6 linked regions of the Homo sapiens genome follow. The protein of the gene in region 6 purifies or fractionates together with the protein of the main gene of each other region. This does not show direct contact. Each region holds a gene or a part of one and is shown on either strand. Other genes may lie near its edges.

The links.
Region 1: the proteins of IRF5 (region 6) and TRIM35 purify together in Homo sapiens (affinity purification with western blotting, with the first as the bait; one study listed by BioGRID). This does not show direct contact.
Region 2: the proteins of IRF5 (region 6) and PPM1G purify together in Homo sapiens (affinity purification with mass spectrometry; one large-scale study listed by BioGRID and IntAct). This does not show direct contact.
Region 3: the proteins of IRF5 (region 6) and HIVEP1 purify together in Homo sapiens (affinity purification with mass spectrometry; one large-scale study listed by BioGRID and IntAct). This does not show direct contact.
Region 4: the proteins of IRF5 (region 6) and GTPBP1 purify together in Homo sapiens (affinity purification with mass spectrometry; one large-scale study listed by BioGRID and IntAct). This does not show direct contact.
Region 5: the proteins of IRF5 (region 6) and RGS3 purify together in Homo sapiens (affinity purification with mass spectrometry; one large-scale study listed by BioGRID and IntAct). This does not show direct contact.

What each region holds. Positions count from the first base shown.
Region 1 is NC_000008.11:27,286,253-27,291,219, forward strand, and holds part of TRIM35 (E3 ubiquitin-protein ligase TRIM35), read right to left. Parts: intron 3,927-4,967; coding exon 3,904-3,926; intron 3,029-3,903; coding exon 2,910-3,028; intron 1,876-2,909; coding exon 1,298-1,875; 3' UTR 1-1,297. UniProt on the Homo sapiens protein: E3 ubiquitin-protein ligase that participates in multiple biological processes including cell death, glucose metabolism, and in particular, the innate immune response.
Region 2 is NC_000002.12:27,380,699-27,384,612, forward strand, and holds the end of PPM1G (protein phosphatase 1G), read right to left. Parts: intron 3,395-3,914; coding exon 3,254-3,394; intron 2,903-3,253; coding exon 2,668-2,902; intron 1,908-2,667; coding exon 1,778-1,907; intron 1,531-1,777; coding exon 1,428-1,530; intron 1,108-1,427; coding exon 901-1,107; 3' UTR 501-900; downstream 1-500.
Region 3 is NC_000006.12:12,123,098-12,128,064, reverse strand, and holds part of HIVEP1 (zinc finger protein 40), read right to left. Parts: coding exon 2,195-4,967; intron 1-2,194.
Region 4 is NC_000022.11:38,722,157-38,727,123, reverse strand, and holds part of GTPBP1 (GTP-binding protein 1), read right to left. Parts: intron 4,581-4,967; exon of another isoform or gene 3,602-4,580; intron 2,828-3,601; coding exon 2,713-2,827; intron 1,119-2,712; coding exon 974-1,118; intron 867-973; coding exon 684-866; intron 1-683. UniProt on the Homo sapiens protein: Promotes degradation of target mRNA species. Plays a role in the regulation of circadian mRNA stability. Binds GTP and has GTPase activity.
Region 5 is NC_000009.12:113,504,740-113,509,706, reverse strand, and holds part of RGS3 (regulator of G-protein signaling 3), read right to left. Parts: intron 4,266-4,967; coding exon 4,184-4,265; intron 3,320-4,183; coding exon 3,214-3,319; intron 2,421-3,213; coding exon 2,069-2,420; intron 1,167-2,068; coding exon 1,127-1,166; intron 1-1,126. UniProt on the Homo sapiens protein: Down-regulates signaling from heterotrimeric G-proteins by increasing the GTPase activity of the alpha subunits, thereby driving them into their inactive GDP-bound form.
Region 6 is NC_000007.14:128,935,557-128,941,226, reverse strand, and holds the start of IRF5 (interferon regulatory factor 5), read right to left. Parts: upstream 3,301-5,670; 5' UTR 3,178-3,300; intron 3,011-3,177; exon of another isoform or gene 2,982-3,010; intron 2,102-2,981; exon of another isoform or gene 1-2,101. UniProt on the Homo sapiens protein: Transcription factor that plays a critical role in innate immunity by activating expression of type I interferon (IFN) IFNA and INFB and inflammatory cytokines downstream of endolysosomal toll-like receptors TLR7, TLR8 and TLR9.

The sequences.
Region 1 (4,967 bases), on a different chromosome or scaffold from region 6:
GCATGGTGGAGGAAGAAATTAGGGATGAAATCGCAAGTGGCAGAGCAAGCATGACCAGGCTGAAGTCAGCAGAGACAAGAGGGCAGCGAGGCCCAGCCTCCTCTTCCCTCTCCCACAGCGTTTAGGGCCACGTCCATGGCGCCACCCCTCTCCTTTCTTCCCAACTGAAAAGGGTGCCCTCTTTCCTTCTTTTCTGCAGACGCTGATGAGAATTAACCAGAGGAACTTCCTCCACAGCAACTATAACAGGACATCCTCATCCAGTCCTCCTATCTCATTTCCTGGTGGGGAAACAGGCCTGGCAAGGAAATAGGCCGAAATCACGATTTAAAAAATGTTGTGTTTAAGTACTCTGGAACCCTGTGTTCAGAGGAAATCGTGCAAGAATAGATCAATCAGAGCTGATCTGATGGAGACGGAGGATCCAGCCACACAGAGGCCCTGCATTAACTGTATTTCCTGTACTCTTGATGCTCTGGTATCTGGGGCCTCGCTGACCTGGACAGACTGATCCTCCCAGGCTAGCCAATCCCCCAATCCCTAGAGATGGCAAGCATCTGGCTGAAAGCATGCCTTTCCTATGGAAACCAACTAATCCGGAGCGATGGCGCCAGCTGCCTCCTTCACATGGCTCTCCCAGGGCTGTCACACCCCAGGCCAACATTCACCTGTCCTGACTATCCCGGGGCCAGGTATCAGACAAAAAGGGCAGCCCCTATCCTGAGAGCCACTGAAATTACTCAAGCCAGCTACCCTTAAACCTGTCTCCCCTGCTTACTCTGCCTTGCCCATTTCCTCCTGAGGAAACCAGAGGAAGTCTCTTGCCCACACGTTCCCCTCCCTCCTTCCGCCTTCTGACCCACCGTGGGGCTTTCCTATGTGGCCCCTCCTCTCAGAACCGTAAGTAACAAACTCTCCTTTCCATGGCAGTCCCCTCCTCATCCAATGGCTTTACCACACCTCGATGAGATGGTTTACAACAGGCCCATTCTAGAAGTAAACATTATTCCCAGAAATCCTGGAATAGGGATTCAGAAAATTCACATTGTGGAGGTGCCACGACTCGGGAGAGCCTGGCCAGCGAGGTGCCACCCGAATAGCTCCTGACCATGGGCACAGAAGGGACCAAACATGGAGAGAGGCACAGCCTGGAGTCATGGAAAAGGACCAGGCAGGACAGGAGGAAGAGCCTGGCAAGGAGGCAGGGGCGCAATAGTGCCCAAGCAGTGTGGGCATTAGGAAGAGGGCAGAAAGAAAACAGTGCTGTGGCACAAGACCGGGGCAGCCCCGGGCCAGCTCAGCCATCCAGTTCTTCCTTGACACTGATGTGCAAGGGGCAGATGCGCAAAGGCTCTGGAGGCCCGGCGCCCCGTGCACCCCCCAGGTAGAAGTAGGGGCGAACCTCCCCAAAGCGGGCGTGGAAGGTGTACAGGTGGCAGTGGCGCTCCGCGTCATAGAAAGACAGCTCGCCCTCCTCACACTCCAGCTCCACACGCAGGCGGCGTGGGATGGCCAGGACCAGGGGCGACGTGGCTGGGTCCGAGGTCACGCAGTGGTCCCCCTCCACGCCCTGCGTGCGGCAGACATACCAGAAGCCCGAGCGTGTGTCGTGGTAGCAGCTGTGTGAGTGGCCCTCAGCGCCCGAGTCCTGGCGCACACGTACCACGCCCACCCTCCAGCTCTGCAGCCCCCCAAGGGCCACCTCCCAGGCGTGCGAGCCCTGTGAGAAGACACGGGAGCCCAGCAGGCAGGGCGCCGAGGAGAAGCGTTCCGGGTTCTCCACCTGCACGCGGTAGCCATGGTTGGTGACGCTGGTGAGGTCGTCAGACACGGAGAGCCAGCCAGCTGCGGTGTTGGGGTCAAAGCTGAAGGGTACTGCAAGCAGAGGCGGAAATGGGGAATCAGCAAACCTGAGGTCCCTTAGGCCACACGTGGATATCTCCAGCCCCACAAACCAACCACTGTGTCACACCTGGCCCCAAGTCCATGCAAGGAGTGGCCCAGGGCTGGAGTGGTGGCAGGGGTTGGGCTGTATCCCCCAGAAGATATGCGGCAGTCCCAACCCCTGGTACCTCCGAGTGTGACCTTATTTGGGAATGGGGTGGTTGTACACATATTAGTTAAGATGAAGACTGGAGGAGGGTCCCCAATCCAATATGACCTGTGTCCTTAAAATAAAGAGGAGACAGACACAGATACACAGGGGAGAATGCTGTGTGATGGCGGAGGTGAGGATCAAAGTGCTGAGGGGGAGCCAATAAGGCCAAGAATGGCCAGGAGACACCAGGAGACGGAAGAGGAAATGAAGACTCTCCTCTACAGGTTTCAGAGGGGGCCTGGTCCTTCCAACATCTGGATTTTGGATTTCTACCCTCCAGAACTGTGAGAGAGTCAACTTCTGTCATTTTCTAGTTTGTGGTCCTTCGTTATGGCAGCCACAGGAACTCATACAGGCAGAGACTCTTAACACTCACACGACCAAGGGATGTTAGGACAGCACGGCCCATTCCCTGAGTCAGTGATATTCCTCCCCGTAAAACCAGGACACTGTGGCTCATGTGGGCTGCAGTCGCCTTAGGAGAGGCAAGCCCAGATGCAGGAGGTCTTTTATCATACAAAACACAGTTCTGAATAGGCAAGAAAGCCAGTTTCCCTCTCTGAAGAAGGGACCAAGTGTCAGGACCCTGAGAGAAGGCATTCTACCAGGAGGGTTGGAGGTGTTGGGCAGAGTGGAAAAGACCAGGGTACAGGAACCTGCCTGCGAGGGACTGGCAGAGGGATCAGCTGAGAGAGGAGGGGAGCTCTGAGGAGGTGGGAGGTGGGCCCGGCAGAGACCAGCCCTGGTGCCTCTTTGCTAACATGAAGGGCTTCCACCCATGCTTGGGACACCTGCCGGCACCCCCGCTCACCAGATTCCACAGATGCAAGCATCTTCTTCCAGACGCGGTACTGCAGGGAGCCCAGGTACTTGCAGACATCGATAAGCATGCCGGGCTGGACTGGCTCTGGCTCCATGGTGCAGAAGAGTCTGGAAAAGTACAATGGGTATGGTGGGCAGGGCCAGAGCCATGCAACCTGGGCCGAACTGGGCCAACTGGAAACCAGCAACAGGACTTGTTCCCTTCCCTCAGGCCCAAGTTTCCTGGCCACCTTCTCCAAGACAAGACTGGACTGGGCTACGATGGGAGATGGGCCAAGGCCAACAGGGCTGCCATCTCCCTTCAGCATTCAATCCGAGGGCTCACCCTGCCCCAACTAGGAGAAATACAAACAGGAGGTTCTCCAACATGGCTGCCATCCTTGCAGGCAGAAATCACACTTACACATCCGGCTCATGGGATGTCTGAGTTGGAAGGGACCCTAAGGATGCTCTAGTCCAACAATCCCAAGGTGTCCTCCAGCCTTTGCTTGCACACTGCCAGTGGGAAGTGAGCACAGGGAACTCACTCCCTCCAAAAGCACTCTATTCCATCTTTGCACAGCTCTGACTGGGACACAGCTCTTCCTCATTCATCCCTGTGAACCCAACAACCATCAACACAAACCACCATGGCCTAAGGCTCTCAGAGGGAGGGGGCTGATCAAGAAACAAGCCTGACATTGACTGGCCCCGAGAAATGCAAGCCACATGCAGGATAGTGTTCTCCTTCCCTGCACGGCAGGTGGGGACCCTCCACACTCAGGAGAACAACACTGCCCCAGAGCCAACTTGAACTGGATGCTGTGAGAGGGCTCTCTCCACCTGGCCATTGTCCACCTCTCCCTCTAAAACCAGGGCCAGTAGCTCATGTGTGCTGGTGCACCCAGCTGGTTGTTACCTGCTTGCCCCGGGGCCACTGGAGTTTGCACCCCTGGTATTTCTGCCCACTCTTCCCCTCCCCTCCACCAGCTTTGGCAACTTACCGGCGTTTTCGGCTCTTGTGTTTCTGAAAAAATAAAAATAAAAAAATAACACAGAGACACAGATGTAGAGGAAATGTATATGTTTCTGACCTCAAAAGAAGTCATGCATTCCATGGATCATAAGTCTTAATATTGTCAAGATGTTAACAATAACATCCCTGCTATGATTTGAACATATTATCCAAAAGTTCATGTGTTGAACACTGAATCCCCAATGCGACAGTGTTGGGAGGAAAGGCCTAAAAAGAGGTGATTGGGTCATGAGGGCAGAGCCCTCACAAATGGATTAATACCGTTATTGTGAAGTGGTTTAGTTGTCATGAGACTGGGTTGCTATAAAGCAATGAGCAACTACTCTGTCTTGCACTCATTTCCTCCTTCTGCCATGAGATGACCCACACCAAATGCCAGAGCCATCATGCTCCTGGACTTCCTGGCCTCACCCAGAACACTGAGCTGAATAAACTTGTATTGTTTTATAATTTACCCAGTCTGTGATATTCTGTCATAGCAACAGAAAACATAAGAAGAGACTCCTTAAGTTGATCTACTGATTCAGTGCAATCCCTTATCCTAGCTGGCTTCTTTGCAGAAACTAAAAAACTGATCCTAAAATTCACACAAAATTTCAAGGAACCCAGAATAGCCAAAACCATCTTGAAAAAGAAGAACATTGGAAGACTCATAATCTCCAATTTCAAGACTTACTACAAATCAACAGTAATCAAGATAGTATGGTACTAATATAAAAACAGGCACTGAGATCAATGGAATAGAATTGAAAGTCCAGAAATAAACCCTCATATTTACCATCAATCAATTATTTACAATAGTGCCAAGATGATTTAATGGAGGAATAGTCTTTCCAACAAATGGTACTGGGAAAACTGTATGTTGACATGCAAAAAAAAAAAAAAAAAAAAAGTGAAGTTGGACTAACCCTTACTATACCATATACAAAAAAAAAACTCAAAATGCATCAAAGACCTACATGAAGAGCTAAAACCGATAAAAAACTTGTATCTAGACTATATAAAGAACTCTTACAACTCAACAATAAAAAG
Region 2 (3,914 bases), on a different chromosome or scaffold from region 6:
CCGCCGCCGCCGCCGCTTCCATTCATGGAGCCCCCTACCCCCCTACGGAGACCAGCTGGTACCTCCGTACTCGCTTCCGCTTCCGCCGCCGCAGAGACGCACGGGACGCGTAGTCCGTGGGAAGCGGCCGCGGCGGGAGCCTCAATGGCGTGACCGGGAAGTGATTGTGACGAGGCGGGGAGCAAGCCAATCAGCGGCAGCGGGGAGCCGGCCAGGGAGCAGCGCAGGAGGCGTCCTGCCCGACTCCAGGCTTCAGGCCAGCCAGACCGGTCCCAACCTGTCCCTGGGGGAACTAGATCATTTCTGGCTGCAGGAGGGGGCGAGGGGCAGCCGCGACGCCCGCCAGGCCGGCCTACCAGCAGCTCGCTCTGGGCTCTCCTATACACGCGCAGGACACACACGAGCACACGCACACACTCACATGGGGGCTCGCCACATGCTACAGATGGGACCAAGTCGGGGGCCACGGCAGCAGAAAAAAAAGGACACGATGCGTACGATTAGGTTTTGGCCTTTAGTCTGAAAAAGTGTTGATTGAAAGTGTACAACAGAGAGCGGGTGCAAGCGGCCGAGGGCCATGGAGCCGCCAATAAAAAAGAATGTCCTTAAATAAAGTTCACAGAGTAAAAACCAGAACCGCCAGTCCTTCCCTCCAACACAACAGAGCACAGGCACAGAACCGGTGATGAGCCCGAGGAGCAGAGGCGGCTGGGAAGGACAGCAGAGGCTCCCGGCTGCAGTGTGGAGGGAGAGCCCTCTTTGGAATGGGCGGAGTGAAGCCACCCAGCTCCCCCTGCACACCTCATACCCACTGCTAAGGCTAAAGGAAAAAGACAAAACTCAGTCTCAGGTCCGGAGGGCTCAGAAAACAGTCTAGGTGGGCAGGGGTCTGGATGACTGCTAGTCTCGCTTGGCCTTCTTCTTCTTGTCGCTGTTGCCATTTTCTTCAGCCCCCTCAGTAGAGAGCACCTCCTCTAGTTTTCGCTTGCCACTCTCTGGCTGGAGCTCTGCTGTGTTTCGGGGCTTGAAGCAAATGATGATGCAGGTCATGTTGTCACACCCTGTACCATCCCCAGAAGTGTCTGGTGCCAGGCACTGATCCAGCAGCTAAGAAAGGGATGGGGGTAGCTCAGCCACAGGGTTTGAACACCTTGCCAGGAATCTACAGTCCCACAAGAGGGCTGGCTTGCTGAGTCAGGGTGGTAGGAGAGGAATGGGCAAGAGGTATCACACAACGGCCCACCTGCTAGTCCATAAGGCATAAGGCTAAGTCAGGGAAATGACAGAAGGTGGAACTTTGGAGTCGGGGTTTAGCGTCTGTCAGCAATTACTGATAATGCTCCCAGATTGCCGACTTAGCTCAGATTAAAAGAGTGAACCCTGGCTGTGCAGACCAGACACCCTCTCTTCTCCACCCTGGTACTCACCTCTTCCACAATGGATGACAATAACCGAAGCTCCCCATTTTCATCACGCTGGCTGATCTTTGATTGAATGAAATCTACAACTTCCTGGCTGCTCATCACATTCCTGGGGTCAAGAACAACAGTCAGAATCTTCCAGTCTCACTAAGGCAGCGTAGAGGAGTATGGACAGAGGTGGTGGCCCAGGCCAGTGTAAATAACTACAGAAATTCTCAGCTCTGCCTTAGTCTGGGTGCTCTTCACCCACCAAGAGGCCTAGGTCTGCCTAGGCTCTAATCCTAGAGGTGCCCTGAGTCCTATAAGAGAAGACATGCTGCAGAAAGGGGAATTTAGGGCATTCTGCCAGTGCTCACCAGATGCCATCACAGGCAATGACCATGAATTCATGGTCGTCAGTGAGAGTCAGCACCTTGATGTCAGGAAGGGCTGAAATCATCTGTTCCTCAGGTGGCAGGTTCTTGTTTCTCTTATAGAAGTGGTCCCCTGGAGTAAAGGAATGGTTGATGAGCAGTTTGGATACTTCCCACAGACTTGTGTTTGTGGCAGGTCAAACCTTGCCATTCATTTCCCTTCTTTACAAAGTTCCATAATCTAGTGGAATGGGGAACTGAGTCCTAAGTCCTAGTTTTTCTAGTTTCAACCCTGCCACCAGACTGCTGAACCTTAAGAAAGTCACTCACTGGTCTTTTTATTTTAAGTCTTTTTTGTTTTTTTTTTTTTGAGACGGAGTTTCACTCTTGTAGCCCAGGCTGGAGTGTAATGGCACGATCTCGGCTCACTACAACCTCCGCCTCCCGGATTCAAGCGGTTCTCCTGCCTCAGCCTCCTGAGTAGCTGGGATTACAGGCTTGCACTACCATGCCCAGCTAATTTTTGTATTTTTTTTTTTTTTTAGTAGAGATGGGGTTTCACCATGTTGGCCAGGCTGGCCTCGAACTCCTGACCTCAGGCGATCCACCAGCCTCAGCCTCCCAAAGTGCTGGGATTACAGGCGTGAGCCACCACGCCCGGCACTCACAGGTCTTTTTCATCATTCAAATGTTACATAAGATGGGTATAATGATACCTATGTATAATGATACCTCTACCCATCTTAGTTATTTCACAGAAATATAAGAACAGAGGTAGTAGATATTAAAGTGCTTTGAAAGGCACAAGCACTAGGAAGATTAAAGTTTGCTACTAGGTAGTCTGGGACAGAGAGAAAGACCCTAGAAGTCTTTCCCAGTTTCTTGGCCCTTACCAATGGCTCTGGAGAGGTTGAGGCCCCCGTTGACTCGCCCATCCATGGTGACCTTGCCACCAGCATTCTTGATGCGTGCTAGTTCTACTTCATCCTCTGGTTTGTGATCATAGGACATGTCTAAAGCTTTGCCAGCCTCAGATACCACACAGCGAGAGTCTCCTGCGTTGGCTACAATCAACTGCTTCCCTCGTATCAGGGCCACCACCGCTGTTGTACCACTGTCAGAGCCAGGCTTAAGAGGAAGAAAAGGAGCATCATGGGGGCTTCTGAACATGCGTTCCTCACTGATGTGCTCCTGATCGTTCACCTATGCTTGCTTTCACTGGGACCCCCAAAAGAGCTTTAACAAACAGGAGAAGCACACATTTCATCTTTCTAGAGACAGCAGCACACTCCCTCTCCCTTGTTTTTAGATAATTCAACCCCAAAGGCTTACCATCTCATTCCCCTTGCAGAATAAATCCCCATGACTATTACTTCCATCCTAAAGTATCAGGGGGATCCCCTGTCTCAAAATCAAAATTAGGGGATTCACACCTGCCTTGTGGCTTTTCAAGACTCATTGCTCCCCTTCCCCACACACCTCCTCTTTGCCTTCCATCCCTGGCACCATCATCTCTTCTTCTTCTTCTTCATCGTCCTCTTCAGCCTCCTCGGTGTCATCCTCATCTTCCTCATTCTCTGCCTCCTCACTGCTGTAGCCATCCTCTTCCTCGCTGCATTCCTGCCAGGGGGAGGATCCCAGACTGCTGAGACTGGGATGATCCCCTCCCTCCCCACAGCTCATACTCAGAATCAAGAGGTCCTGACTGAACACAGGTCCTCAAAACACTGAAAGATACAAGTATATGGTCATGAAAATTGGGGGGATGGAAAGGGCTAGCATGAGTACAACTGACATCCTGAACTGGGCTTAGCAGTCACTAGCAAAAAGCCCAGGACAAGGCAAGGGCTGCCAGCCAAAAATATCTTTCAGGCACTGTGGCCAGAAAATAAATTTTCCAGAGAAGAAAACAGTCAACTAGCCAAGGTAACAACTATCTCCTTGTTCTCTCTCTAGGAGACAGACTCTGAAAAGCCAGAACTAGATCTGCTTGTTATAGTACCAACAAAGGAAGAGGTAAAAAGGCAAATGGTACCTGTGATGATGGAGCTCAATGAATTCAAGACTAAAGCTTAGAATACAGTGGGTCTTGGGGGATGATGTCAAAATAGGAGAAGGAAAGAGAGTTGAAAACTACAGA
Region 3 (4,967 bases), on a different chromosome or scaffold from region 6:
TTTACATGCTTGAGCACTCTATGTATTGTATGTTGAAAATGCCATGTTTTGCCTAGAAATCCTTTTACTTTATAGCATCTATCTGTTCTTTCCCATTGTGAATCATAAATGCATTAACATTTGAGTTGTGGATAAAAGCCCAGTAATCCATGCTCCATAGCCACTTGCTCATAGACTCAACTCTCCAGTGATCTGCGCAGTCCAGATATACCCATTTGCCTTCAACTTTATTTGACCTAACAACTCTCCTTGAATATCTTCTTCTGTGTTTTGTGTGATGCCACTTTCTGCTCATTCTTATCCTTCCTCTATGATCAAACTCTTTCAGTTTCCATACAGGAGTGTGGACTTTCTTCAACCATTCAACTTTTTAAATAGTAGTGATCCCCAGTATCCAGTCTAGGCTCTCTCCTCTTCTTTATACCCTGAGCAATCTCATTAATCACACCTATGCACTAAAGAATCTCTACTCTACACAAAAGAATCTCTACTCTACACACTTCCATCCAGAGCTCTCTCCTAAGCTCCAAATCTAGATATGCATTTCCAGACATTTCTTCCAAGGCATTTGGTACTCAAGGAGAGCCACTTCTCTTCTCCACAAACACTTCAGGAACATACACGGAGTTTTGTTTAAATTCTAACTATTAGGTCTTAACTTCCAAGATTTAGTAGATTTAGAGCCTGAGAACTTAACAAATTCCACAGGTGGTTTGGATGCACTTTCCTTCACTGAGAAAGTATCATTGGTTCTCCACCACCATACACATGATTTGATTTTTACCTATGTTTCCAAATTATAACTCTTTTTAACCAGGCCAGACTCTTCAGAGTTCTTTAAATGAACCAAGTTTATTCTCATTTCCATGTCATTTCGTGTATTATTAATTTTTTTTTTTATTCTTGCTGGGCGCGGTGGCTCACACCTGTAATCCCAGCACTTTGGGAGGCCAAGATGGGTGAATCATCTGAGGTCAGGAGTTCAAGACCAGCTTGGCCAAACCAGACATGGCGAAACTCTGTCTCTACCAAAAATACAAAAAGCCAGGCGTGGTGGTGGGCACCTGTAATCCCAGCTACTCAGGAGGCTGAGACAGGAGGGTTGCTTGAACCCGGGAGGGGAGGATGCAATGAGCCAAGAGCGCACCATTGCACTCCAGCCTGGGTGACAGAGTGAGATTCTGTCTCGAAAAAAAAAGCTGCTTCTTCTTTGCCTGAAAAATCCCTATTTTTTTAAAAAAAATTTGAACAGTTAGCTAAAGTATCACCACCTTTGGAGTATGTTTGCTGAATTCTTCTCTCTTCCACCTACCAGTAATGTTAGAAACTTCCTTCTTTAGAATTGTTCATAATTCTATGGTAATACTGATACTGCAGTATTTTCCTACTGACAGATTTGTAAATGTTTATTAACCTGTGTTGCATGCTTATGAATCTGCAGAGGCCAAATACTTCTGAATATGCAGAGTCGAACGTGATATGCTTACCTATTATTCTAATCAAGTAAATGACTTTTTCCCATTTTATAAAGCTGATAATTCTAATGAGACTGATTCCACAAATTACCCCAAGTTACAGTTTCATGACCTTAAATTACTTTATAAATCTTGACCAAATCAACTTACCAAGTATATGAATTATTTTGTGAAACTTCTCTCTAGTGCTAATGGTTCTCACAGCTACACTGGAAGACAGCTACATAGCATGACAGGGGCGTGTAGCTAGTAAGCTCAAGACAAGTCTAAATGGCTTTCTGCTTATATTTCAGGATGAAATACAACTATCTTTGATTATCTACACCTGTTTCCCTGCATGAGGAGGAACAAAGCATAACCATGATTTCCTTTCACTTAACAAGAAAAACAAAACCTCAATATAAGTAAAACATCAAAGTAAAACCATGATCATCTGTACTACTAAGTAAAGACTTATATAGTTAGCTGAGAAAAAGAAAAGTGCTCAGGGTAAATCATTTCTAAAATCTTTCAAGATAGAATCACTGCAAGACTCTTGGTAACTCTTATCAATGTAACTCCTGGGGTAAATATATCACCCTGTCTTTCAAATAAGACATTTACAGCACAATTTGTCACTCAAAATTAAAATATTTCCAGTTAAAATATTTAAAGGTATCAAGACACATGGAAACAAATTTGCGCAAACCATATCTGAAGATAAATTATATTTCAAGTACCTTGCTTAAGCTGCTTTTCCACTTGCTTGAATAGACCAATAAGTCTGACTTGGAATGGGTAGTTATTGCTTGACAGTATAGTGATTTTCCAGTGTTCTGTTTTGAATTAAGGAGAGCAAGTGCAACTTTTGTGGGCAAACCGAGTGGATTTGGATTACTGGCGCTTACTGTCCAATCAGTATAGGCTGAAGTTTTCTGGTCCTTCTGAGGCAAATGCAACGACTTCTGCCTTAAGAGATAACACCATGTAAAGTTGGTTGTAGTTTTCAGGCTAGGGAAAGCCAGCTGCTGGGTGTCCTTGATGTTAAACAATGAAAGAGAAGTGACTGGCTGTTGACTTTGCTCTTGGATGTTCACTTTGTCACCTTGATTTTTAACCCCTGGAGACTTCCTTTCTTGGTTATTGTCTGTACATTTCAAAGGAGAAATATGAGTATTTTCTGAAGGAGCAGGTGAACTTCGAACTGTAAGAGTTAATGATGTGGATGACTTGATGTTTTCAAATTCCTGCAATTCACTTATAGGTTCTATAACGACAAATTTAGAGCATCCTGTTGATGAATTATCAGCTGGTAAAACATTTGTCAAATTAACAGCCTCATTACTAATTTCAGGTTGAGAAAAAACATCCTTTTCCAACATCACACCGTCCAGGGGCTCTGTAGTACAAACCTGTCTCACTAAAATAGGCTTCTTCTGTTTACTAGCTTCATTAACTCTCGAACTCAAAGCCTCTAAAGGTCTCACGTCTGTTGCACAAACAGCTCCATTTTCATCTTTGGCCCGCTTCTGGTGCTTTTCCATGGCAATGTCTAAACTATTTGCTGGGGAAAGCATCCTTTTACTCGAAGCTGAAGATTCTTGTTGAGGGGAAAGTCGACCAACAGATATTTTCTGAGTTATGGGCAAGGATTCTGATAGAGAAGAATTTTGGCTCATCTCTGAAAAAACATTTTCACATAGAAATTCCTTCTCTGGGTTTGGCAAAGCATTCTGATGACCTTTTTGTAATGTTGGCACAGAATTTTGTTCTTCACTGATTGGCACTACACTATGATTAGTCTGGCAAATTGGCTGATTGGGCAGATCTTGGGTCACTAGTATTTGTGGCAGGGATGTGAGTGTAGCAAAACAGTAAGCAGGAACACTACTCTGCAGGCGTATGGGCAGCATGAATGATGATGGCACCTTCTGCACCTGACTTCCAAGGGGCCTGAGCTCTGGTGGTAGCAGAGGATGCGAATTAGACATGCTGTCAATTAATTTGGTTGGTAATGTTGCTGATGTCACACAATGATCTGTTCCAACTGGATCTGAAATAACTTGATTTGGCAAAGAATGCACAGGATTAGAAGAGCAAGATGGGCCTGAAGTGAAAACCTGACAATGCAATTGGTATTTGGGAGCAAAGCAATCCTCACTTTTAGAAGACCCAGATAAAACAGAATTTTTATCTGGCTTGCTACCCTGCGTAGACACTTGCAGAGATAGCTGTGTGCTCTGGTGGCTAGGCGGTGCATGGATTTGATTTAACAAATTGATATCACAGAGCTGTTGAACAGGAAAAACGTTGGTAGAGCTGGAGTTTGATGTTTCTGCCTGCAGATCCTTAACCTGAGTCTGAGAGTGCAAAGTATTTGCAGAAAACTCAGCTAAAGATGTACTAGTGAGCTGAGGCCCCTGATATGGCACTGCATTCACACTGGGAAGAGCAGTATTTTGGAAAGATGTTGGGTGTACAGGAGACAGATGACTATCTGGGGCTATGTTTAAAGATATTTGCCGTACCAGTGGGCCTCTCCTTCTTTCTAAGAGAGGCACATGCCCAGTCACTCCCACTCGAGAAGGTGAAGATGGAGGCTGCAATTCAGTAAGTGGTGTTGTCTGGGGTGGGGTGATGCTTCCACAATCGAATGATTTGCTTCTGAGATCAGAGACCTCCATTGACGTTTGCGTGCAATTAATCTGTTCTGATGCAGTACGCCTCATTTCCCGGTGACATCCAGGAACATTCAGAGTATTCAAGCCAGCTGGAATCATAAGAAACTCGGCTTTATTTAGAAAATCGATTTTGGGGGAAGCCTCCGTTTTAGAAACGTCCTCTATGTCTAAAGAGGCTGAGAAACTTGAAGTGTGAGATAAACTGCTCTCCCTACTTAGACTCCTGGAGAGAGTGGAATCAAAGCTCGATTCTGTTGAGGAATGTTCTATCTCAGCCAGACGGAGCCTTTTCTTTTTGGGTGGCAGTTTCTCTGTTGGCAATTTTGACAAGGTTTCACTACGCTGGGGCCAACTGAACTTCTCTGACTTTTCTTGATCATGGCATTGAGCTTCCAGGTCTCGATCTGGTTCTTCTGTGACCAAAATCTCTGGAACTTGGATGTTGTGCTGCCGGACAAGTCTTGAGGGCTGTCCTAACACATGTCGTTCACTTGGACTCTTTCTGGAGCTTTCCTGAAGTTCTCCTCTGAGAGCGTCTGATAGTGCAAGCTGGTGAGGATGAGACCCGTCCCGAGAAGGGTGACTTTCCTCTTGGGAGATTCCTATCACTTTTAGAGACCCGGACTTCCCCGTTCTATTCAGCTCCTGGAAAGAAACTGGGGAGGCTCTTTCAAAAGGCTCAGGCTTGTCAAATGAGTTGGGCCTGCTCAGGGAGTTGGTGTGCTGGATGACAGAGATTCCAGTTCCGTGTCTCTGCAGTTCTATCTTGTCCTGGGCTGCTGAACTTATCTGTTGTTCCATGATGGTCGACAGCTTGGGATCCATGGTCTGC
Region 4 (4,967 bases), on a different chromosome or scaffold from region 6:
TAGGGACCACCCCAACTCTGCCTGGTTTCCTCACCAACTGGACCACAGGCCTTCTAGGGTGGACAGCACGAGCACCCTCAGTGCTCCATGGGAAGACTCAACACTACTACTGGGGGTCAGGAAGGCTTCATGCGGGAATCAGCACTTCAGCTGCTCGGCCATGAAGGACGCATGAGGAAGCAAAGGCAGGCAAGCATTCAGGGGGAACAACAGGTGGGCATGACCTGACCACTGTGGGGAAGAAAGTCCTACTATTCCTGGTTAATTTAGTTGGTGGGTAAAGGTAGGTGACCCCTGAACTACAACCCACCCCAAACCCCAGGAGATAGAAGGCTGAATGGGAAGAGGATGTGGCGCAGATCCCAATGGTCCTATGTAGAAGGATCCTTGCACAGCAGGGATACTCCTATTTGACCTCACCACTGAGCTCAGGCCACCCTGCTCAGGCACCAGAGGGAGGAACGGAGCTTAGAAGGAGGCATTCCTCGCTCTAGCACTTACAAGCTGTGTGTCTTGGGCAAGTCCCTGGGCTCTGAGCCTCAGTTTCCTCATCTGTAAAAATGAAGCCAGTAATCCCGACCTTGCAGAGCAGCCATGAGGACTAGAGTGGGTGAGCAGGGCATCTGGCCAAGAGCCTAGCATGATGGAGTCTGAGGGGAGCGTTCAGTATCATCGCTACTCACCTTCTTCAGCGCAAAGGATGCTGTCTGGCCACCCCGCACCTCCTTGACAGGCATGCGCTTGCGATGGATGGATTTGACAGCAATGGACAGGAAGTTACCCAAGGGGTCTGGGCCCAGCAGCAGCGTGTCATTCAGCTTGATCAGGCCTCTCAGTGTTGTCCCCGAAACCACTGTCCCCACACCCTGCCAAGGAGAAGACCCTGGCCTCATAAGTGCATCCCCAGCACAGACCCACCCCCTGATGCCACTGTAGGAAGTGCCCACCCAGCTACCCGCCCAGAGCCACTTACCGGGACGGAGTAGGTGTCATCAATCTGAAACTCAGCAGGCTCCTCCTCCCTGTAGCTGGTGCGGGGGGAGAGGAGGTTGAGGAACATCTTCAGCAGATCTAGGTTCTCGCCTGTAACGTTGGAGATCTGGAATATCGGGCACATCCTAAGCAGAGGGAGAAGAGGAAGGAAAAAAGGAGAGAGGCACTCAGGAGACCAGGTCCTGCCCTGACACAGACCAGGGGCAGCAACAGGGCTCGAGGAGCAGATGCCACTATTCATGACTCCACCTCTCCCTCACCTGCCTCCAAGGGCTTGACCTCTTTGCCCTGACCTAGCAAGCTCCTGGCCAGCCCTACTCTGAGGCCTTCTTCTCTCACTCAGTTCTGTCTCTGACACCTGTCCTCTCCTCTCTGTCCTCCACCACTGCCCTAGTTTGGAACCTCATGACTGCTTCTTCCTAAAACACACGCATGCTTGCTTAAAATCCTTAACCGCCTTTCCACCACAGAGAAGATACCCCAAATCCCTCTCCCAACACTCACAGCCCTTTGGCTTGGGCTTGTAGCCATCTCTGCAGATTCACTTCTCGCAAATTCCTATATTCCAGCCACACCAGAGAACTCTCCCTTCTCCTAAAACTTTGGAACTTTTCTGCCCTTGTGGATTTGCTCACTCTGACCTTCCTTCCTGAATTCTTTCCCTTTTATGCAACTACCAGGCCCTCTCACCCTTCAGAGCTCATCTCAAATACCACTTCTTCCATGAAATCCTTCCTGGGTGGACACTCTTGACTCCTCTGAGTTCCTGGAGAGCTTTTTCTCTATTACACATGACTGCATCTGATTTTTCATCAGAGTCCTGTAAATGGCCTCTATTGCTCCTATTCAGGGTGACTGAATTAAAATCCTTGAGATCACGAATTACACATTCCCCACAGCTCCTAGAATAGTGCCTGCACAGAATAGGCACTCAAGAATATCAACAAGCTCAAATGGGGCTGTCTGAAATGTGCCCCCTCTGCAGGCTAACTGATGGTACTGAAGATCACATCAGGGCAGAGGCATAGGCAAAAAGCCAGGCTGCTCTGGGCCTGGCGCTATAGACCAAGCTCTGGGCAAACAGGCAGAGTTAGTAGAGTTCACCATTATCGAGAGAGCATCTCTCACCAAGGAGCTGAACACCTTGAGGACAAGGATTGTGTTCAATTCAACTCTGAATCCTCAACATCTAGATGAAGAGTCTCGCAGAACAAACATCCAATAAATATTTATGGAATGAAAGAATACATTAATGAGTAAATGCCAAAACTGATCTGATTAGTGAGCTTTTGAGGAACAACAGTATAAAAAACTGAGTTACAAAAATGGCTGTGTATTTACCATCCATCAGCCAGGCAGGGCATTAAGTGCTCTACATACTTCATTTCCAACATTCACGGGAGCCCTACAGGGAAGGGAATGTTATTCCCATTTCACAGATAAGGACACTGAAGTCTCAGCCGGGATGCCAACCCCAGGAATGCCAGCACCTCACAATCTGGGTTACGTGATATTACCCCTGGGCAACAATGCTGGCTTGGGAGACCCTGCGCTAAGATTGGAAGCTTCTATTTCCTCCGATCTCTGAATAGGGAGAGGTGTTGATGTGGTGTTTTCATGAGACCTTATGCCCAAACTGACAGCCATTCCAGGCCCATCACTCACTGTGGTCCTGCCTGCAAGGGTGCCTGTCTGAAGTGTGCGCTCCCCACGCGTTACCTTTCAGAGCTGAAGTTGGAGGCTGTGACAATCACATCATCTTTGCTCTGCACCAGCACGGGGATCTTCCGGCAGCCTGGTGACTTCAGCAGGCGCTGTAACAGCTTCAGGGTTTCTTAAAGGGTGCAATGGAACAGAATTAGGGGGACACAGCCTTCTCTTTGGCCAGGCTTTAAGAGCAAGATGGGTCCACTCATTACTGATGCAAGCAGGAGACAGACAGATAGATGGACCAGTGTTAAATGCCACAATGCCTGGAGAAGCAAAAAGGAGGATCAAAACTTTGGGTGCTGCTAGAGTAAGAAAAGCACAGATGGGGCCTCTTTTCTAGGGTTCTGCGTCTGAAACCTGGCAGATTTCTCTTGTGTCTAGACGACCTGCCTCCTGTAAGCATGTGACTTGAGGGTCCCCAAGAAAAACAATTCACTTCACACTTCAGTTCTCAGAATGCACTACTTCCTGGAAAAAAATCTCATCCAACAAAAAGGATCTCTTAGACATTTAGAAGTCTACAGAGACCCTTATTATGAGGCTTCCCAAAGGGATACTTTTCTACAATCTTTAGCAGTGAGGGAGAAAGGCATGAAGGCTTAGTCCTGCAACCCTGTGTCAAAGCTTTGGTGGCAAAAGGTAATCAGACCCTCTGTCCAAACTTCCCCGTATATATCCAGCTTAGCTGGTAGAGCCCAACTCCTTCTGCCTGGGGTCACCTGAAAAGAGGTGCCAGATTCAGGATCTCAAGATTTCTGCATTTGGAACCAGAAGGAACAAGGAAGAGGATAATTCTAGGCTGTGTTCAGACCAAGAACTAAATAGGGGAGGAAGTAGCAGAAGATTCTGGGCTGATGGAAATTCAGGCCAAGACCTAAGTACAAGACAAAGGAAGTTTCGCCCGCGTGCACTGAAGATGGTAGCTGCTGTGGGAAGGCTACTCTGAGCATCGGCTGCCCGACATGTGAGTGCCATTCCTTGGGGCATTTCTGCCACTGCAGCCCTCAAGCTTGCTGCTTCTGGAAGAACGAGCTTGACAAACATATTATGGTCTGGTTCCAGTCAAGCAAAATTCTTTAGCACCAGCTCCTCATACCATGCACCTGCTGTCGCCCAGCATGCACCCTATTTTAAGGGTACAGCCATTGTCAATGGAGAGTTCAAAGACCTAAGCCTTGATGACTTTAAGGGGAAATAATTTGGTGCTTTTCTTCTATCCTTTGGATTTCACCTTCGTGGTCCTACAGAAACTGTTGCTTTTAGTGACAAAGCTAAGGAATTTCATGATGTGAACTGTGAAGTTGTGGTCTCAGTGGATTCCCACTTTAGTCATCTTGCCTGGATAAATACACCAAGAAATAATGGTGGTTTGGACCACATGAACATCCCACTCTTGTCAGATTTGAGCAAACTTCCTGAGACTACGGTGTGCTGTTAGAAGGTTCTGGTCTTGCACTAAGAGGTCTCTTCATAACTGACCCCAATGGAGTCATCAAGCACTTGAGCGTCAATGACCTCCCAGTGGGCCGAAGCGTGGAAGAAACCCTCCACTTGGTGAAGGCGTTCCAGTATGTAGAAACCCATGGAGAAGTCTGCCCAGCAAACTGGACACTGGATTCTCCTACAATCAAGCCAAATCCAGCTGCTTCCAAAGAGTACTTTCAGAAGGTAAATCAGTAGATCACCCATGTGTATCTGCACCTTCTCACCCCAGAGAAGAAACACAGTTGAAGCCTGCTTTTATCATTTTATAGATGATTATCTGTAGAAGGCAAGGAACCAATTATGCTTGTACTCATAAATATTACTCTAAATGGCTAAGGCCTTTTAAACATGGTTAGTTGCTAGTATAAGGAATCCTTTATTGGTAACATCTTGGTGGCTAGCTAGTTTCTACAGAATATAATTCGCCTCTGTAGAAGGCAATTCTTAGATCACATCTTCAGTAGAAACACTCTTCTGTCTTAGCCTTACTTGAAGCTTGCCTACAACAAAGTGGAGCAACACACATTGAAAGCTTCTGATCAAGGGTCCTGAAATTTTCATCTTGAATGTCTTTGTATTAAGCTGAATTTTCTTTTAAGCTAACAAAGATCACAGCTTTCAATTGTTATCAGCAGTCAAATTTAACTCCTGCAATGAATGTTTATGTGATTGAAGCAAATGTGAATATTATTTTAAAAAGTGGCAGAGTGACTTAACTGATCATGCATGATCCCTCATGCTTGAAATTTATAGTTTACCTAGTCATTTTACTTATTTTA
Region 5 (4,967 bases), on a different chromosome or scaffold from region 6:
AAGCAAGTCTGTGAGTGGCTAAGCAAAAGCCACTGTCAAGGAAGGCGGTCCAGACACCAGATGGACTTCTGAGTCAAAGCTTTCTGGCAGGCACGCGAAGGATCTCAAGGAATGCCCAGCCAGCTTCAGCCTCAAGACCAATATCTCAGCCTTCCTGGGAGAAGAAAGTGGTTTTGAGCTCAGCTTCCACCCCTGATCAGGATTTTAAAAGCCAAAGAAGAAGAATCCATCCAGCAGCAGAGACATCTGTGCACTTCAAAGACAGCTACCCTCTGTATAGCCTCTCTCAGTATACAGGCAACTACTCATAACCATTCTCTCATGGGATCCCCCCAACAACCCTCTGAGGTAGGAATTATTGACCCCATTTTATAAATGAAGAAACTGAGGCTCAGCGAGGGGACAGGATTTTTTTTTTTTTTTAGACAGAGTCTCGCTCTGTCACCCAGGCTAGAGTGCAGTGGCATGATCTCGGCTCATTGCAACCTCTGCCTCCCAGGTTCAAGTGATTCTCCTGCCTCAGCCTCCTGAGTAGCTGGGACTATTGGCGCACACCACCACGCCCAGTAGTGATTTTGTATTTTTAGTAGAGACGGGGTTTCACTGTGTTAGCCAGGATGGTCTCAATCTCCTGACCTCGTGATCCACCCACCTCAGCCTGCCAAAGTGCTGGGATTACAGGAATGAGCCACCACGCCCGACCAAGGAGACATGATTTGCTCAAAGTCATATAGCTAGAACTCCAACTCAAGACCTCCCACCTCCACGCTCCCTGACTCCCTTCCATGCAAGCCCAACCACATTGCCTCTGGCACCTAATATATATCGGTTGCTCTGTAAAATTGGATGAATCTCAATTGAATGCCTGAGGCCTGGACACACGGTCTCTCAAAATGCCCTGGTAAGATCCCCTCTCCTCCTTCTCAGTTCTGGCTTCAAGGAAGAAAGACATTGGTTCCGTGAGGGAGAAAAGGTACCACGTGGAAAGAGAGTCTGTGTCGATAGGCTAAGTGACCTGACTCCATTGGAAAGGCCTCAGAACTCAGGGGCGGAGGCTGGGCCAGGCCTCAGCTGACCCCTGCTGCCTCTCTGAGCTAGGAGGGCACAGCAGCAGCAGGAGACTCACCTTCGGGGATGGTATCCTCCTGGTACACAGGCCGGAGCAGCTGCAAGGGAAAGACAGGAAAACCACCTCAGCCCCAGGAACAGGGCAGGACAGCCCAGGAGGCTGCTGGACACGGGGGCCCCAGGGGAGAGGAAGTGGAGCACCTCAGGGCACAAGAGAAAAACAGCAGTTCTGGTAACCAGCTGAGGGAGGAGGCTGGGAGAGAACACAAAATCCCAGAATATTCAAGTTGAAAGAGGCTTTATGGGTCATGAAGCCTAACCCCTTGGCAAGTCCCCAACTTCCTTTACAGCAGCTGGTTCCAAAGTGCATTCTAGGGAACACTGGAATGGTAAGACGGTACCAACCACGCCCTAAAGTGTGCCCCCATTAGGCAAGTTTGGGAAATGCGGTGTTATTTGGTTGACACCTGCTGTAGTACAGGATGCCAGCAGAGCCTCTACTAGGCTCCTTTGCATTGAGAATCTCCTAGATGAGGAAGAGGGTATGGGATATGTCGCAAGCTTATTTGACCTCAGAACACCTTTTTCCCAGAGCATCTCATGGGACTAATGTTTTGGGGAGCGCACTCCATCATCCCACCATGCAATCATGCAGTGTCTGCTTTCATACCTCCTATGATGGGGGCTCACCACCTACCAAGGCAGCCCATTCCACTGGGGAAAAGCACAGGCTAGTAGAAAGCTCTTCCTTCTGTGAGTTGAAATCTTCCAGCCTGTGCATGCCCTGGTCTTGAATCTGTGCCCTGAGGCCACATAGACCCATCTGTCCTCCCTACCAAGAACAGCCTTGCAGAAGGCAGAGCTAGCACATACCCCATCTCCTTGCCCAACATCGCAGCCCCTCACAGGCTGCTCATCACACAACTTTGGGTCTTCAAGTCTTCCTGGCCTCCCACAGGGACCCAGTACCCTTCACCTTCCCCACACCAGCTGTCCGTACCTGGCTCCCAGGATTCAGCGGGGCCAGGATGATGTAGTTGGGGTCGGTGGGGGCAGTGGCACGGGACAGTGCAGGCAGGGTGTGCTGGCCCCCGCGCTTGGCCACCTCGGTGTAGCGCTCCCAGCCGCCGAGCAGCAGCCCATCAGAGCTGTCACATACCAGGTGGCAGCTGTGGCGCTGCTCAGGCCGTGCCTGGACCCCATGGGTGCAGTTCTTCTCCCGTTTGTTGGGGGGTGACTGGAGGTCATGTGTCGACTTGCAGGAGGCCCGCCGCAGGACCCCGCCATCTGGTCCTGGCTTGACCTGGGGGACCATGCGCCACACGAGTAGGATGATCTCACTGGGGCAGCTCCTGGAAGGTGGGGGATCACACAGACAGGTTGAGCCTGGGGAAAGCCAGTATCAGCCAGAGTGAGGGCCCACAGGGCAGAGAGGATAATGGGGGAAGAGGAGGCAGACACCAGAGGGGAAGCCCCCAGTGTCAGGGCAGGAAGGGATGCAAGAAGCCATTTAAAGAAGAGACAGCAAATGGGTCACCTAGGTCAATTCCTATTGACGGGCAGTGGTTGAGAAGGACCCTGAGGCCAGGCCAGTTTCAACAGGAAAGAGTTCCATACTCAATCCATGATGCTTATCAAAAGCAAGATATAAGCAAGTAAAGCTAGCAGGTCACCTAAGTGCAAGCCCTCATCTGGTTATTCCAGAAGCAGACCTAAAATGGGGCCATCGGGGTTTTACCCTAGAGGATCAAAATTTGGGAGACTCCAATGTTTTCAAGAATATTTTTTTAATTGTGCAATTGAAACATTTGCAACATCTTCATGCCCTTAAATAACAAATGGGCTTAGCTCTTAGGTAACAAAAATTAGCTAAAGCAGAAAGCAACCTCCTGGTGCCCCGTCCTGAACCACAGAGTCTGAGAGCATCTTCCCTGCTGTTTGCTCTGGAATCCAAAAGTGCTCTGAGCCTGAACCTTCCATTCTCAGGCCAAGAAACAGATTCCTTGAAGAGCAAAAGGAATTGCCTGCTCACAGCTAGGCAAAAGAGGGAGCAGCAAGAGCTGGGCCAGGCAAGGCAGTGTGCCCAGGGGTGGGGAGGGTGTGCCATCAGCCTGAGGCCCCAGGCCACCCGCTGTCCCCTGTCACCGGATCTCGTGGGCCAGCTCCACACATTTCCAGTGCTCCACAGGCCTCTCATTCAGCTGCAGCACCGTGTCCAGCTGCTGCAGCCCTGCCCGTTCCGCCGGACCCCCTGCAGGGACAAAGAAAAGCCATTCAGGGGCCCCTGAAGCCTAAGACCCCTTCAAAGGATCTGGAGTCCTTTGCTGCCATGGTGACCTCAGACAAGGACCTCCCTTTTTCTCTAAGTTTCTTCATCCGTGAAATGAGGGACTGAACTTGGTGCCTCTCAAGAGCCTTGAAAGAAGGCATCCCTTTGCCTTCCCTTCTCCCTGCTTGCCTCCCCTACTGCTGGCTTACCTCCCCTACTGCTGGCTTACCTCTCTGCAGTCCACCCTTCTACCCGGGCCCTTACCCCTCCCCAGGGCCTCCTACCCCATTGAGAACCTTCCCTGGGGCCAGGCTCCCACACTACATTTATTCCTTCTCTGCCAATCATTGTGCACGAACCTCATGCCCACCCTTGTGTAGGCACTGGAAACACCCTGACCACTGAGCCCTGGCTTCTGTCTTTGAGATGCTCACTCTGTGATTAAGAGAAATCTTCATTTGTGAAAAGTAGGGAAGGATGGCTCTTTTTAAGTGCTGATCAGGCTCTGGATAGGATACAAAACAGCTTCAAATAGAGTTCACAAATGACTCTCATTTTCCCTTGCAGCCATTGCTGAAAATATAGGTTTAGTTCCTGTTCAAACTGATTGGGAAACAAAATATAAAAACCTATTTTCATTTTGATAAAAACAACAAAAAAAAAGTGGGCATATTTTCATAAATGGCAGTTTCATCTACGGTCACTTAAAAATATTATTCTTTTCATTTTGAAAAGCCAGGACACTTTGCTCCAGTTTGGGGCTCCCCTTTTAGTTCCAGACTATGTTTGCAAAGCCCACATGTGTGGTGGGCAAGTGGGGTTGGCATCCCCCTGTCAATAACTTACCGGAATCCACGGCCTGGACTCGAACTGGAGAGTCGCAGCAGATGGTGAAGCCAAAGCCGTCCTTTCCCCTCGGGATGGTGATCTAGGACACAGCCCTGCCCGGTCACTGCCAGAAGCTGGAGGCTCTTGCCTCTACCCCAAGGTCAGGAAGCCCACAGCCCACCCCTGCCAAGAGCCACCCTCCTCTCCAAGGGAACTGGAGGCACAAAGGAGCTAGCCAGCCCCTCAGTGTCCCTATCTCAGCCCAGACAACTTGAGCACTGGGTTGTGGGCCAAGCAGGAAGGCCCAAAGCTCAGCAAGTAAACCCAGGCTGATGTGGGGAGGGCCTGGGATGGACAAGGTCTTGGAAAAGCAAACTTTGCCATCCTGAGCCCCAGCAGCCCCAGCCCTTGATCCAAGGGCCCACCAGCACTGCATGACTCAGCCTCACCTTTGATCCACTGTTTTCCTGGCTCCCTTCTTCCTTTCTCACAGAGGTTCACAGAGCGTTAGCCTGGGGCGGGCCCTGTGCTAAGGGCCCAAAGTCAAGGCCAGCCTGGTCACTGCCCTCCCAGAGCACAGGGGAGGAAACACTGGGACACACTCACTCCATCTCAGGCCAAGGGTCAGAGGAAGAGAGCTGAGGTTCTGGGGGCCAATCTGTGGCCAGGGCCCCAAGGCATCCCATGAGGACTCCCAGGTAAGGTCACAGATAGGCTTCCTGGCTGAACCTGAACTAGCCACTGACTCATGTGCCTGCTGAGGCCCATGTGCTTGACAGGTCCACAACTCCTACTTTCAGAA
Region 6 (5,670 bases):
CCCCGCCTCCCAGGCCACAGCTTCACTGCCTCCCTGGAGTCAGGCCAGAGGGACCCTGCCTCCTCCCCTTCACCTGCCCAACTCCCTCTCCAGCCCAGAACCGGAAACTCTCCACAGTCCTGAGTCCCCTTCTGTCCCTCTCCTCCCCTTACCCATGCCCTTGGCCCTTCACTTGAGACCCCTGGGTGGAAGACAGAAAGGACTGGGTCATTACACAGCACAGCCCATCAGAAGTGAATGTGTCGGTCAGCAAGTAAGGAGCAAACGTTCGAGCTGAACTCCCTGTGTCTGGGCCTGCTTTGGCCTTGCAGCATGGAGCCTCAGTTTCCCCTGAAATTCCCTGCCCAGTACCTTTTGGGGTTGCACCTGCCTAGTGCCGCCTCTGAGCTGCTACTGTCTCACATTGCAGGCCTCCCTCAGAGCCCAGCTCTGCTGCCACCAACCCAGGAGAGGTAAGGCCGGCCCTTGCCTGGCCCAGGGGCTGGGACGGGGAGGTGTTCAGAACGCTCCAGCCCTGCCCTGGCCTCAGAACACGCGGGCTCAGTTCCGCTTTCTGCCCCAGCCTCCACCCGGCCCCAGGGGAAACGAAAGTGGCTAGACCGGGACAACTCAGAAACCAGACTCACTGTGGGCTGAGGGAGGGAGCCGAGTGGGTCCCCCAGACCAAATTTCCAACCTCCCACCCAGAGCTGTTCCCCGCACCCCAAACTTGCAGACAGTTTTTGTGCATTTAGTGTGGTTTATAACATGGGTGTGCACCCACCCATAGTTGTATCTGTAGACCCCTGAGAGGCCTTGGCCCTAGAATAGAGGGGTGCCAGTCACCAGCGGCACACAATTCTGGCCGAGCAAGGGTGGACAGAGGAAGCTCTGTCTGCACAGAATCGGGGAGAGCTTCCCTAATGACCCCCTGGGCTGAGGCCGTGCAGGCGCTGGTGCCGTTGGGGAGCTCAGAGGGTCCGGCTGCCTGCCCCCTACTGTCAGTCCAGCAGTCTGGCCCTGCCCAACACGGCTGTTTAATACAGAGCAAGGTTTTGAAATGATAACTCCGACCTCAGTGTCAGAGGGCCGCGTCCATACAGGCAGCTTAGGGAGGGGTGTGGAGGAGGAGCTCCCGTGACAAGCCCGGCTGTGATGAGCGAGAGTCTGTCCACCATGCCACAGAAGGGACTCAGCCTCAAGGCTTTTGCCTGCAGCTAGGTCCACACGAGCTCTAACCCGAACAGCATCCATCCTCCTAGAAGCTCCCTTCTGCCCAGAAAAGGGCTAGGTCTAATTCAGACCACCCCAATCAAGGCCCATGACTTTGGAAGTTCGGTGTCAGAACAGGTCTGCCTGCCAGGCTCCGGAGTCTCTGGGTGAAATGTATGGAGCCCTAGACCTAAGTCAATGGACCTGAGCCCCGGAAGGTGGGGAAATCCAACAGCCTGAGGAAGTCCCTACAATTGTGTGAGGCAGCGAAGCATCCAGTGGGCAGCCCTAGAGGACCTGCTGAGGTGGGGTAAGCCCACAGCTCACCCCAGGGCCATGCTGGAGTCCCAGGAGACAGTGCCCCCACCACCACCCAGGAGCTGCAATTCATGGGCACCAGGGACCCACTAGGGGAGGAAGTGCCACAGCAGTCCTAGTAAGAGTGGCCAGACAGCAGGCGCCCTGCTGCTCCCAGGGTTGGTCTGGGTCACATGTCTCCTTGCAAACCCACACCCAGCTCAGGGAGAGGACAAGGGGTTCCCTGTACAGGCCCTGACCCCCAAATCCCACCCCTCCGGGTCAGCTGCCCACACCCTGGGCCCTGCTGCCCACCTGGTCCAGACAGGCTGAGGCTCTGGGGCAAAAGGTGCCCAGAAAGAAGCTTCTTTCAGCTTCCTCCCAGGGTCAGGGTAGGGGAAGACCAGGGTACAGGGGAAAAACCCCAAAGTAGGGCCTTTAGATAAAAAGGGGTGATTTCCCAGTGCTTCCCTTGACTCTTGGAACCCCTCAGCCCCAGCACCCCAGGCCCCATAACTACTGGGGGTGGGGGCAGGAAGGGGAGGTCTTGCCAGAGGGCCTCCTGAGGGGCTACAGTTTCCTACATCGATACAGCCGAGCCCTCTCTGGTTCTGGTCACTTATCCCCATTCTGGGCCCTCGAGGAGCCCAGGCCCAGCCCAGTCCTCCGCCCCTGCTCCCCCCTCCCCTCCGCCCCCACCCCTCCCGCGTGCTCCGCTGGGGCACACCCCCTGGGCCAGCCCGCGGAGCCACCCCCACCTCCAGAGTCGGCCTCTGGACCTCTCCTCCTGCTGCTGGAGGAGCAGCACCCCGGTCCTCGCCCTGCTGTGTTCAGCGTGGCCGCGAGGCTGGGAAAGTCCCCCACTCCAGCCTCTGCTCCCAGGTACCCGCTCCCGCCCCTCCCGGGGTCCGGAGACAACCATCTCCCCACGCATCCCGGCCATGCTAGCCTCACTTTTCCTCCACGTTTAGCCTCTTCATTGTTGCCTTCTTAAGTTCTGGGACAGGACCTGAGGAAACCAGCCCAGGAACTATTGCGCCCCATCCTTTTCCGCTGCTCGGGGGACGAGAGTCTGCCATTCCCGGCCGCGAGCCCAGGGACGCAGCCTCTACCTGACACCATCTTCCCCCAAACTCTTGCACAGTTCCTGCCATTGGCCTGAAGATCCCGGGGGATGAACGCTTTAACCTCAACCTCTTTTCCGAAAGGGTGAGGGTGGCCCGGTAAGAGCAAGGGCGAGTGCATCGAAAGTAAGGATCGGGCCTCGCTCCTCTGTGGTCCAAGCCAGCCTCCAGCGGGGCTCCCGGGAACCCCCATTCTGGGCGATGGCGAGGGGGAGGGAGAGCAGCAGAGCCGGCGCCCCCCGCAGCGCTGCCCACTCCGCCGCCTGGGTCACTGGGCTCCCCGGGCGCCAGCACCCCAAACCGATCGGGGCGTGGGAGGCGCTTTGGAAGTCCCAGGCCGGCCGGGCGCACCCTGCTGTAGGCACCCACCCGAGCTCGCTTTCCAGGCGCAGCTGGACGCGGACCCCGCCCTACTCCAGTCTTCATCCCGCCGCCCGCAGGTGCCTGGGGGGCGCGGGGCCCAGTCTAGGCCTAGACTTGGGGGCAGTAGCCGGCACCGCTCCCGCCACCCTCGGGGCGCGCCGGGCGCGGACGCAGAGAGGAGAGCGCGGCGGCCGGGACCCACCTGTCTGCGGTGCGCCTGCGTGGCTGCGCCAGGGAGCACCGGCCGGGCGGCGGGACCAAGCTGAGCTCTGCCCAGGCTGCGCCTCCCGCCGGTCCGCCAACCTGCCGGGCACTTCCGCGTCTTGCCGCCCCCGCCCCTGGGCAGCTGCTGCTGAGCTCCGGGCGCGGGCAGTGCCCCGCCCCGCCCCGCGAATCCACTCCGGGCCCCGCACTGACCTGGCAACTGCAGATCCGGGCTGAGCCTCGGGCCAGGCCCAGGGCCTCCAGGGAGATGCCAGACGGCGCGGTGCCCTAGACTGGCCACTGGCTCTTTTGGCAATCTGGAATGGCAAAACTGTCATTTGACAACCCCGTACCTCCCGCTGCAGTGCTCAGTTGGGCCCTGGGAGAGGGTGGGGTGCTTCCCCACTCTGGTCCTCCGGGGCTGCACACAAATGAGGGCGCAGTGTGGCCGACCCACAGCTCCAGGCCCTCCTCTCGCCTGCCTACACCCCTGGCGAGGGTGGCTCTCGCCCTAGAACACAGTCGCTGCCCCCAGGATCCAGACACCCCTTCCAGATGTGCTTGCAGGCGGGAATCCTCTAGTCACTCTGTGCCTTTCTCATCCTCAAACCCTGCACCTGTCTCGCCCCAGCTCCCCTAAGTCGCCTTCCAGTCATCCCAGGGGCAGCGGCGTGGTCGCCTGTCCCACCTCCTCTCACTACTACCTTGACCGTCGACCTGTGGTTCTGAACCGTTTTCGATTCCATAAAGAACCTCACCCCAGAACCTCCACCTTCACACACCTCCTGTTCCTTCTCATGGAATGTTCTTCGCTTGGTAACTCTTGCTCTTCAAAATTTCTGTTTCTGAAATTTTCAGCATCGCCTTCTCTGGAAAGTCTGCCTTGACTTCCCCTCCCAGGTGGGGTTCCAGGGTGCAAATAGCTTCCTGGTTGATTTTGCTTATGATTTTGTTATGGATTGCCAGGGGTTTGGTCCAGGTCTGGCTGCTCACCGCACAGAAAGCCTATCACTGAGACAGCGAGTATTGCCAGGGAAGACTTTATTCCGGTGACATCAGCCAGTGAGCTGTTGAGAGGGGAGACAAACCTCCAATCCATCCCTCCCCTTGACTAAAGTTAGGGGCTTATATAGCAGGGAAGGAAAACAGGAGGGACAAGGAAGAGGAATTGGTCAACAGGCAGCAGGTGTACTGATGTAAGTGTCTCAAGCTTCAGTTCTATGAGCATCTGGCTTTTTGGAAAATTCAGCGGGTTTCAATTTTGATGTCTGATTTCCACTCGAATCAGCTTACTCAGGAACCTCCCTCCTGTCTTTTCATTGTTCATTTTATTTTATTTTATTTTTTGATATGGAGTCTTGCTCTGTCACCCGGGCTGGAGTGCAGCAGTGCGATCTCAGCTCACTGCAACCTCTGCCTCCCCAGTTCAAGCGATTCTCCTGCCTCAGCCTCCCAAGTAGAGACGGGGTTTCACCATGTTGGCCAGGCTGGTCTCGAGCTCCTGACCTCAGGCGATCCACCCGCCTTGGCCTCCCAAAGTGCTGGGATTACAGGCGGGAGCCACTGCGCCAAGCAGAGCCTTGTATTTTTAACAAATAAAGTAGTATTTGTTGATGAATCAGAACTTTGACCTTCCCTCCCCTCCCTTCTCCTGGGTTGAACTTTACCTTTAACAAGTTAAAAAAAGACACTCATGTGTTAACGTTTTTTTTTTTTCTCTTCTGTATCTCTCCCTCTTTCCTGACCTTTGAAGCCCTAATATGAAGTCGAAATATCATTATATATAAGTATTTTATTATTTGTATCTGCTGAGTATTTCATTATTTCATATTTTTAAAATTTAAAGTATGGATGGGGAAAATGTGAATGGGTAGATCGTTTTATATTTCTTTCTTTAAAAATGAAATTGCTAGGCCAGGCACGGTGGCTCACATTTGTAATCCCAACACTTTGAGAGGCTAAGGCAGGCAGATCACTTGAGTCCAAGAGTTCGAGACCAGCCTGGGCAATATGGCAAAACCTTGTCTCTACAAAAAATACAAAAATTAGCCTGGCGTGGTGACACACACCTATAGTTCCACCTACTTGGGAGGCTGAGGTGGGAGAATTGCTTGAACCCAGGAGGCACACCACCGCACTCCAGCCTGGGCGTAGAAGTGAGATCTTATCTCAAAATAATAATAATAAAATGAAATTGCTATTTCAAAAGTGGCTCCCCACAAAATGGGAACCTTTTTCACTGGAGGTCAGTTATGCTTAATAGAAAAATATTCTATGCTGGTCGTATCTGGAGCAATAGCTAAGAAGAGCCTTCTTTTGTTATCAAATACTCCTCACCCATTCTGAGGGACCGTGAGACCCTAGAATTCTGCCCTCTGCCCCCTTCCCACTGTCCATCTTGCTCAGGTGAGGCCCCTTCCTTAGAGCCTCTGAACCTCAAGAAGCAGCACGGGCTGCGTGCAGAGAAGGGGCTTGCACCTGGCTTTGCTGT